Linked DNA regions of Homo sapiens. The protein of the gene in region 2 purifies or fractionates together with the protein of the main gene of each other region. This does not show direct contact. Each region holds a gene or a part of one and is shown on either strand. Other genes may lie near its edges.

Region 1 (3,656 bases), on a different chromosome or scaffold from region 2:
CTTGGGAGGCTGAGGCAGGAGAATCACTTGAACCCAGGAGGCGGAGGTTGCAGTGAGCTGAGATCATGCCACTGCACTCCAGCCTGGGCAACAAGAGCAAAACTCTCTCAAAAAAAAAAAAAAGGAAAGAAAAAAAAAGAGGCTTGTAACTCCAACATTAACTATATAAATATTAGCATAATACATATATAAGATTTTAATATATATGTTTAACATATATAGGTATATATGTGTTTAATGCATATATACATATATGTATGTGTGTATATATTTGTTATATAGTGAAATATATATTTGTTATATATTGAAATATATATATTTGTTATATACATACATACATACATGTTATATACACACATACATACACACACACACACAATAGGAAACTCCTAATCTGGTACAGAGATAAATATATTCTGCCAAAAAGAATGCTATGACAAACTGGCATTTATTAAAATGGGCTCTTTACCAGTAATTATTCTTGAATCAAAGAATGACACTTTGTTATCTGCTCTACCAAATAATGTCCACCTGAGAGCCAACTTTAAGCTTGGCCTGGTGTCCTACGTGTCTGCAAAAAACCCTCACATTTTCTAATTACTTCACAGCTTATAAATGAAACAGACTCTTCAGAAACCTATGCAGCTATATGTGCACCAGAACTTCATCACCCTGGGGGAGGAACCGCAAAAACTCAGCCCTATAATAGAAGGCACTGTCCTATGAATAAGCTAAAAATTAATTCTGTATCTGCATTTTAAAAAGGACACACTACCTCAAGTAAGATTTGTTATTTTCTCATTTTACAGCAAGAAGTTTTTTTTTTTTCTTTATGATAGTCCATCAAAAATGAATAGAGATCAAGTGGTCATTCTAACATTTGGACCAAAGCCAGGTCAGATCTGAAGGCAATGCAGAAAGGAGGCAGGAATGTGGGCCACACACCTGAAACACTAGGTCATTATCCTCCTTATAACATACCAGAAGGTAGTTCCCTGCCCAAAAGATAAACTCCAGACTCAGCTTAAGAAGCACAGCCCTTAAAATTTTAACCTCAGCCAACCTTTCCTCCTTTATTTAGTAAGAAAAATTATAGCTATTAACCTATTCTTATTGTTCCATAATATCAGTCTCTTATTGTATAAGCTACAATCAGTTCGGAATTGCTGCTGAGTTCCAAAGAGCCTGTAAGTGTCCAAGGCACTCCACAAACCAAGCAGTTGTCAAAAGGGATTTCAGTAAACACTACTCTCTAGATACCTTTCCAAAGGATTAACACTATGAGTCAGAAAATAGTTACCATTAACTACAGTGGTGGGATCGAATTTAACAACGTAATAATCCCTAAAGGAAAACACACTGCCTCCTTCTCATCTGTCGCTAGTCCATATGAAAAGTAGCAACGTCTGGTGGACAAGGGCAGCCTCAGAATGGGCTCTGGGGGACGGCACAGATTCCCACACACTGGACTTCCTCTGACTGGCTGATGGCAGGGATCCTGGCTTTAGGCGTGAGTATCTTTCTTTCTTTGCATCTTCCTACAATTTACAGTTTTTGTATAAATACAATGACTTATTTATTTATTTATTTTTTTTTTTTTTGAGATGGAGTCTCTTGCTTTGTTGCCCAGGCTGCAGTGCAGTGGCACGGTCTCGGCTCACTGCAACCTCTGCCTCCCAGGTTCAAGTGCTTCTCCTGTCTCAGCCTCCTGAGTAGCTGTGATTACAGGCAGCCGCCATCATGCCTGGCTAATTTTTTGTATTTTTAGTAAAGATGGGGTTTCACTGTGTTGGCCAGGCTGGTCTCGAACTCCTGACCTCAGGTGATCTGCCCACCTCGGCCTTCCAAAGTGCTGGGATTACAGGTGTGAGCCACCATGCCTGGCCTACAATGATGTTTTTCAAGTTTCTATTTTGCCATTTTAATATAGAACTTTTATAGAAAAAAAAATGTTTCTCTGAGAAGCAGTTTCTCAATTAACCTGGATAAACATATCTACTAAGACCATGAAGCCATAGACAGATAGCAATGTCCATCACAGGGGAAAACTGAACACAGTGGCGTGCTGTATAATGACATTTCCATTAACAACAGACAGCATCTACAACAGTGGTCCCATAAGGTTATAATGGAGTTGAACAATTCCTATCACCTAGTGACAATCTAACTGTTGGAACATTGTAGCAAAATGCATCACTCATGTGTGGTGTTGCTGGCGTACACTAACCTACTGCAGTGCCAGTCGTTGAAAAGTCTAGCACATTCAATTACATACAGTATGTAGTACTTGATATAATAATAAATGACTATGTTACTGGTTTATGTATTTACTCCACTACACTTTTTATCATTATTTTAGAGCGTACACCTACTTATGCAGGAAAAAATAAGTTAATTGTAAAACAGTCCTTCAGGAGGACTCCAGAAGAAGAAATTGTTATCACAGACAACAGCTCCACACATGTTACTGCCCCCGAAGACCTTCCAGTGGGACAAGATGTGGAGGTGGATGACAGGGATAAGGATGATCCTGACCCTGTGCAGGCCAAGGCTAATGTGTGTGTGTTTGTGTCTTCATTTTTAACCAAAAAGTTTAAAGAAAAAAAAAGAAAGAAAAAACTTATAGAATAAGCATATAAAGAAAATATTTTTGTACAGCTATACAACATGTTTTCAGCTACATGTTATTACAAAGAGTGAAAAACTTTTAAAGAAGTTTATAAAGTCAAAAAGTTACAGTAAGCTCATTTATTACTGAAGAGAAGTATTTTTAGAATAAATTTAGTGTAGCCTAAGTGTACAATATTTACAAAGTCTATGGTACTGTACAGTAATGTTTTAGGCCTTCACTTTCACTTGCCACTTACTCACTGACTCACCCAGAGAAACTTCCAGTCCTGCGAGCTCCATTCACAGTAAGTGCCCCATACAGGTGGACCCTTTTTTTAGTATTTTATACAGTATTTCTACTATCCCTTTTCTGTGTTTAGATGTGTTCAGATACACACATACTTTGGTGTTACAAGATTCTCTTGTGCTTAGAGATTCAGGACAGTAGCATGCTGTATAGGTTTGCACCCTAGGAACAATAGGCCATACCCATATAGCTTAGGGTATGAAGCTATACAGGTGTATAATACACTGTACCATCCAGGTTTGTGTAATTCACTCTATGATGTTCATATGATGACAAAATTGCCCCATGGGAGATTTCTCAGACCATAACCTAGTCATTAACTGATGCATGACTGTATATCATATATTAGCTCTAAAAACCAAACCTATAAGTGAACTGACAAAAGTTGCCATAGATCCTAACAGCCTTTGAGACGGATGGGGGGCAGACAGAGCTTGGCACACTTCAGCCGTTCACAGCTCCCAATCAACCAGTCAGGATGCTGGTGCCATATAATTAGGAGAGAAAGCTAAATCACCGAGGACTCAGCCAAAAGCAAACCATGGTGGTGAGGAGGAAGGTGAAGGAAAAGGGTGGTATGCAACACAGTGGGACACCTTGCCTTATTCCCCATGTTTTTTGAGGCTGGTCCTGAGAAGTTTAAGAGAGAAAGACTCAGAAGCATGCATTGGAGGCCAGTTTTCTTGTGGTCCCAGTGATGGTGGCTCTTGTGACGCCTGGATGAGGAGGGAGAGCCTGG
Region 2 (2,417 bases):
GGGCTGGCAGGTCTGGGGGGAGTCGGGACTTCCAGGATGCCGGGGCTGGCAGGTCTCGGGGGAGTCTGGGGACAGTCTGGGCGGGTCAGGACTCCTGCAGCTGCGGCTCCCTGGCCTGGTCTTCATCCAGGATGAGCGGGGACTGGAACTCCCGGCCTTGCAGGTACACTTCTAAACCCTGGAGACGAGCAGGGGACAATGGCCAAGTACCCACCTTTTGGCGGGTCACAGCCCCTCTGGCCACACCAAGAGCCACAGTCCCCAGGTGCGATCCCAGGTCTGCCTGGAGTCAGGGAGGGGTGGGGACAGAAAGGCTTCCAGGGCCAGGAGCAGACACACACTGCAAGGCCACCCAAGACCACACTCAAGACCCTAGGCCAGCAGGGGACCCTCCTGTCACGCACAGGTCTGACCTGACCAGAGAAAGGGGCAAGGGCAGCCGAGGTCAGGGAGGTAGCAGAGGCCGGTGTCCTCCCTCCGCAAGGCCCCCACCAAGGCCTGACTGGCCCCACACTGGGCTCAGACCTGGGCTGTCTCATCCCCATGCCCTCCCAGGACCTGCAAAGGCCTCTGGATGCCTCACCCCACCCCAACCCATATCTTGGAAAGTCTTCTGCAAATTTAAACCACCGACCCCATTGGTTAACCGAGGTAGAGCTGTGCCGTCTCCACCCGAGCAGCCACCTCTCCCCAGATGGTATTCCAAACCTGACACCAGAAAAGCCCCAGATAGGGATGGGCAGCTCTCACCTCTCCAGAGTAAGACACCAAGGGCGATATCTCACAGATGGCCGGAGGGTCTCCATTTGGGGGCAAGCTAGGGAAAGTCCACTTGTCAATATCTCCTTGCAGCACCTGCCCAGAGCCCTCCCCCAGCACCCCCAGTCCCGATAGGAGACTGAGCTCTACACACCTGGCTCCCCACAGCTCCTGTCTCAGCAAGCTCATCTTCCTCTGGACACCCCAAACCCTGAGCACACATCCCACTGCCAAGTGACAGGACCTGATTTGGGGTAGAAAGCACCCCCACAGGCCTCCCACGCAGAGCCTAGGCAGCTAGATTTAGGGGTGGCCCTAGAAAATCAGGGAGATGGAAGCCAAACGTCCTTTTCTTTCCCAGCCCTGAAATCAAACTGTCCTGCTACTTTCTAAATTCATGCCCGGGGCTCAGTTTCAAAGCCTGTGAATAAATGGGAACAACGTTGGTTGGGTGATGGATCCCCTAAAAGCCCTGACCTGACTGACCAAAGTTGCACACACACCCCACAAATGTATACAAATAAGAAAAATAAAAATAAAAAAATAGCCGGGTGAGGTGGCTCACGCCTGTAATCCCAGCACTTTGCGAGGCCGAGGCGGGCAGATCACAGGTCAGGAGTTTGAGACCATCCTGGCTAACACGGTGAAACCCTGTCTCTACTAAAAAAAAAAAAAAATACAAAAAAATGAGCCGGGCGTGGTGGCGGGCGCCTGTAGTCCCAGCTACTCAGGAGGCTGAGGCAGGAGAATGGCGGAAACCGGGGGAGGGTGGAGCTTGCAGCGAGCCGAGATCCCACCACTGCACTACAGCCTGGGCGACAGAGCGAGACTCCATCTCAAAAAAGTAAATAAAAATAAAAATAAATAAATAAAAGCCAAATCTAAGTATGCCTTTGTAAACAAACCAAAACCTTGTGGATAAGTTGGGGAGGGAGTTGGGGAGCCCCTGCCTCCCTCAGTGCACTGAGCACAACTTGAAGGGTCGGGCCAGGAGGCTGTGCCGACAGTCACCGTGTGACCTGGAGCTGGCTGGGCACAAGGCTACCTGCACCTGCGGTGGTGCCGGGAAGGAAGACCCCTCCCCAGCATGGCTGTCGCAGAGCCAACAGGGCTCTGGAGCTGAAGATTGGGTCCTGACAGCCCTCCCCTTCTGGCTGTAGCTACCCCAGGGCCACACTCACCTGGGCAGCTCTGGGAGCCAGGCCCCATGGGCATCCAGGAAGCGGGCCCCGGCCCGCAGAGCCCACCGGTAGTGCTGGGTGAGCAGGGCCTGGCGAGCGGTGCGGGGACTGTCCCTGTCGGCTGGCTCTGCGTTCTTCAGTGGGGAAAATTCCTCCTCCCGCAGCACTTCCAAGGCAGCAAAGTTCCTGGTGGGGAAAGGGCTAGTCACCCACGTCCCAGCACAGAGGCCCTGATCCGGGCAGGTGAGAGCTGGGCCAGGTTTCCAGTGACAGAGTGAAGGTCTGGTCCCATGGGCAGCAAGTCTAGGGAGGAGCCCCCGCAGGTACTGAGTGTTTTTGCTCCTGAGACGCCAGGGATGGCCCAATCCCAGCAGCCATTTCCAGCAGCCGAAGGCCCAACCCTGGGACCCCTGCAGTGAGGGCCAAAGGCCCTGCGAGCCGCCCTGGCAACCTGGCCAGGAGACCTCTCCTAACCAT
Region 3 (3,656 bases), on a different chromosome or scaffold from region 2:
TCAAATGATTCTCCCGCCTCACCCTCCTGAGTAGCTGGGATTACAGGCACCCACCACGACTTATATTTTTAGTAGAGACAGGGGGTTACCATGTTGGCCAAACTGGTCTCGAACTCCTGACCTCAAGTGATCTGCCCACCTCAGCCTCCCAAAGTGCTGGGATTCCAGGTGTGAGCCACTTCACCCAACCTACAAAGAATTTTTTTGAATTCGCCGCACATGGCGGCATGTGCCTGTAGTCCCAACTACTCAGGAGGCTGTGGTGGGAGGATCGCTTGAGCCCAGAAGTTTGAGGCTAAAGTGAGCTACAGTGAGCTATGACTCCACCACTGTACTTCAGCCTGGGTGACACAGCAAGACTCAGCCAAGAAAAAAAAAGAAGAAGAGCTATCTCTTAATAATCTGTATCCAGGTCACTTCAACCTTAAGATGACCAAGACAATGTTGATTTACTTTACTTTTGGGTATTGTGTCTGTTAGATTTGTGTTCAAATAACAGTGGCTTTAAAAAATCTAGGTTTCCAGGCGTGAGCCACCACACCCACCCCTACTCAGGAGGCTGAGGCAGGAGAATCACTTGAACTGGGGAGGCGGAGGTTGCAGTGAGCCAAGATCGCGGCATTGCACTCCAGCCTGGGCAACAAGAGCAAAACTCCTTCTCAAAGAAAAAAAAAAAAAATAGGCTTGACGGGTGTGTGGTGGCCCAGACCTGTAATCCCAGTGCTTCGGGAGGCCAAGGCAGGCAGATTACTTGAGCCCAGCAGTTCAAGCCCAGCCTGGGCAACATAACAAAACCCTGTCTCTGCAAGTCTCGTCTCTACAAAAAATACCAGAAAATTAGCTGGGTGTGGTGGGCTACTTCTGTAGTCCCAGCTACTTAGGAGGCTGAGGTGGGAGGATCACTTGAGCTCAGGCATTGAGGACTGCAGTGAGCTGTGATTGCACCACTGCACTCCAGCCTGGGTGACAGAGTGAGACCCTTTCTTTAAAAAAAAAAAAAAAAAAAAAAAAAAAAACAGGCTGATTTTTCTTCAAAACACGTGACACATGGAGCTAGAACTGCTGTGGAAACTCCATGGTGCCAGCAGCGCCCAGGCCTCTGGCCTCCTCCAGTGCCATACTTGGCATGTGGCTTCTAACCTCAAGGTTGCCACATGGTCATAGAGTAGTTTTTGGAACTCAAGCCATTAGAACCACATTCGAGGCAGGAAGAAGGAAGGAAGGGAGAAAAGCCAACAGGCACCTCTGTCAGAGGAATGTTGCATGTCAGTGCTGCCCCTGATGGCACAGCAAGGAGGATCCAGAAGAAAGTATTTGGGGCAGGACTGATTCCGGATATGGGTGAGGATGTGTTAAATGTGTGTCTCTTTCAGGCATCTGTGGCTCTTGTGCAATGAACATCAATGGAGGCAACACTCTAGCTTGCACCCGAAGGATTGACACCAACCTCAATAAGGTCTCAAAAATCTACCCTCTTCCACACATGTATGTGATAAAGGATCTTGTTCCCGTGAGTTTCTGCATCTCTCTGGTTTTGTTTTTATTTGCATGGGGGGCAGTGCTATGTGTGTTACGCTATTAGTTTTTCAGGGCAGGATTTGTTTGAGTATTTAAGGCTCCTCTTCTAGTCAGATAGTAAATAGATGGGACTGTTTCCTATATTATGGCAGGAGGAGGACCACAGTGTCACTGAGAGATTAGGAAAATCTCCAGATCTGAGACAGTGTGGCCAGAGTTTAATTAAAGAATTTGAATGGCAGAAGATAAACGCCTAGAAAATCCTCCAGCAGCTCATTTGGTGAGGTTTGTTTGAGAATAATGGGGCACAGAATTTTAGAATTGGAACATTCCCAGAAATGAATAATTTGGCCATAACTACAAAGAAATCATGTGGAAAATGCCAGTTGGGAAAGCAACAGCTGTTTATGAGTCCCACTTTAATTTCTACCTCCCTATATTTGAACACCTTTGCTGACGTGGTGTTTTCAAGGGCAGAAAGGACTGTGGGATTGGCAGGTTTCCCAAGTAGGTGAGGGAGAGGTTTCCTAACCATGCTTAACATTGTGACCATTTTTCCTTTTGTAATCTTTGCATATATTCATGACAAAGGAAAAGAGTCTGGCTTCTGCCTGGCATAGAGTGGACGAGTAGTCAGTGTCCAAGAAATGGGGTAAATAAAGCTGAGGTGATGATGGAATCTGATCCTTTTCTTCTTCTTCTTCTTCTTCTTCCTCTTAACCACAGGATTTGAGCAACTTCTATGCACAGTACAAATCCATTGAGCCTTATTTGAAGAAGAAGGATGAATCTCAGGAAGGCAAGCAGCAGTATCTGCAGTCCATAGAAGAGCGTGAGAAACTGGTCATTAGTCCCTATTTATTGTTTCAATCTGAAGAATTTATTGCAAAGATGATTGCCAGGAGTGTGGCTTGGCAGGGAACATAAGCTGATGCAAGCCATTTAGTGTATTCTGGAGAGGAACTGGCACAAGGGTGGGGCACTCATCCTCTTAGGGCCGGGTGAGTAGTGTGAACCCGTGAATGGCCCAGAGTGGACCAAGGAGCTAGAGCCCTGTGCCCCGCCTGCAGGGGCGGGTGGTTGCTGTGTGGCTACTCCATCTTTTTCAAAAGAAACCAGTATGTAAATTGCCTGGGCTTTAAAAAGTGACCACTAAGTCAGAACTGTTCCCTCACTGGGGGCAAAATGAAACACATATGCTGGCCAGTTGTAACTACCACCGTCCTGCTTTACAAATGGGAGTGAAATGTTAATGGCAAAACAGAGTCATCGATATTCTTTCCTGACACCATACTTCTGGTGATCTGTGGGGTGGGATTATTCCTGGCCTGCTCACTCTCTGGGAGTTGCCATTCCTGTGTACAAGCTGTAAAATCTTAAAGCGGAGGCATCATTATCAAGTTTTCAGTCTTTCTTCTTCTACACTACTTCTACTCCTCTGCGAAGAAGTCTTCTCTGATTTGCATACTCCCTGCATACTTGTGGACGTGAGGTAGGAAGGGGACCAAATGGAGACAGAGCCCCACCTGCAGGTCTGCACAGGGCCAAGGGCAATGGCTGTGTCTTCTTCCTTTCTGGATCCCTAGGCCCTGGCGCATGTTATTTTATCCATAAATATTAGTTATGTAAATACTGTAAAAATATATATAAATTTTTTAAAAGGCCAGATGCAGTGGTGCATTCTGATAGTCCCAGCTACTCAGGAGGCTGAGGTAGGAGGATCACCTGAGCCCAGGAGTTTGAGAGTCTGAGAGTTTGAGGCCAGCCCGGGCAACATAGCCCAGGTTTTGTCTCTAAAACATATACATATATGTGAATATATGAAAAGTATCAGTTGTATGAATGAATAAATTAATTCTACCTTTTGAGACTTGGTAAATATTTAGCATCCTCTCCTGTTGCCCATAAAACGTTAAGAAAGGGGAGTCCGGCCAGGTGCAGTGGCTCATCTGTAATCCCAGCACTTAGGGAGGCCGAGGTGGGCGGATCACTTGAGGTCAGTTGTTCGAGACCAGCCTGGCCAACGTGATAAAACCCCATCTTTACTGAAAATACAAAAATTAGCTGAGTGTGGTGGCTCACACCTATAATCCCAGCTACTCAGGAGGCCAAGGCAGGAGAATCTCTTGAACCCGGGA

Evidence for each region.
Region 1: the proteins of UAP1L1 (region 2) and TGFBRAP1 purify together in Homo sapiens (co-immunoprecipitation; one large-scale study listed by IntAct). This does not show direct contact.
Region 3: the proteins of UAP1L1 (region 2) and SDHB fractionate together in Homo sapiens (co-fractionation; one large-scale study listed by BioGRID). This does not show direct contact.

Annotation. Positions count from the first base shown.
Region 1 is NC_000002.12:105,319,582-105,323,237, forward strand, and holds part of TGFBRAP1 (transforming growth factor-beta receptor-associated protein 1), read right to left. Parts: intron 1-3,656. UniProt on the Homo sapiens protein: Plays a role in the TGF-beta/activin signaling pathway. It associates with inactive heteromeric TGF-beta and activin receptor complexes, mainly through the type II receptor, and is released upon activation of signaling.
Region 2 is NC_000009.12:137,080,398-137,082,814, reverse strand, and holds part of UAP1L1 (UDP-N-acetylhexosamine pyrophosphorylase-like protein 1), read right to left. Parts: intron 2,127-2,417; coding exon 1,941-2,126; intron 818-1,940; coding exon 751-817; coding exon of another isoform or gene 643-750; exon of another isoform or gene 185-642; intron 179-184; coding exon 86-178; 3' UTR 1-85.
Region 3 is NC_000001.11:17,026,454-17,030,109, reverse strand, and holds part of SDHB (succinate dehydrogenase [ubiquinone] iron-sulfur subunit, mitochondrial isoform 1 precursor), read left to right. Parts: intron 1-1,373; coding exon 1,374-1,510; intron 1,511-2,244; coding exon 2,245-2,361; intron 2,362-3,656. UniProt on the Homo sapiens protein: Iron-sulfur protein (IP) subunit of the succinate dehydrogenase complex (mitochondrial respiratory chain complex II), responsible for transferring electrons from succinate to ubiquinone (coenzyme Q).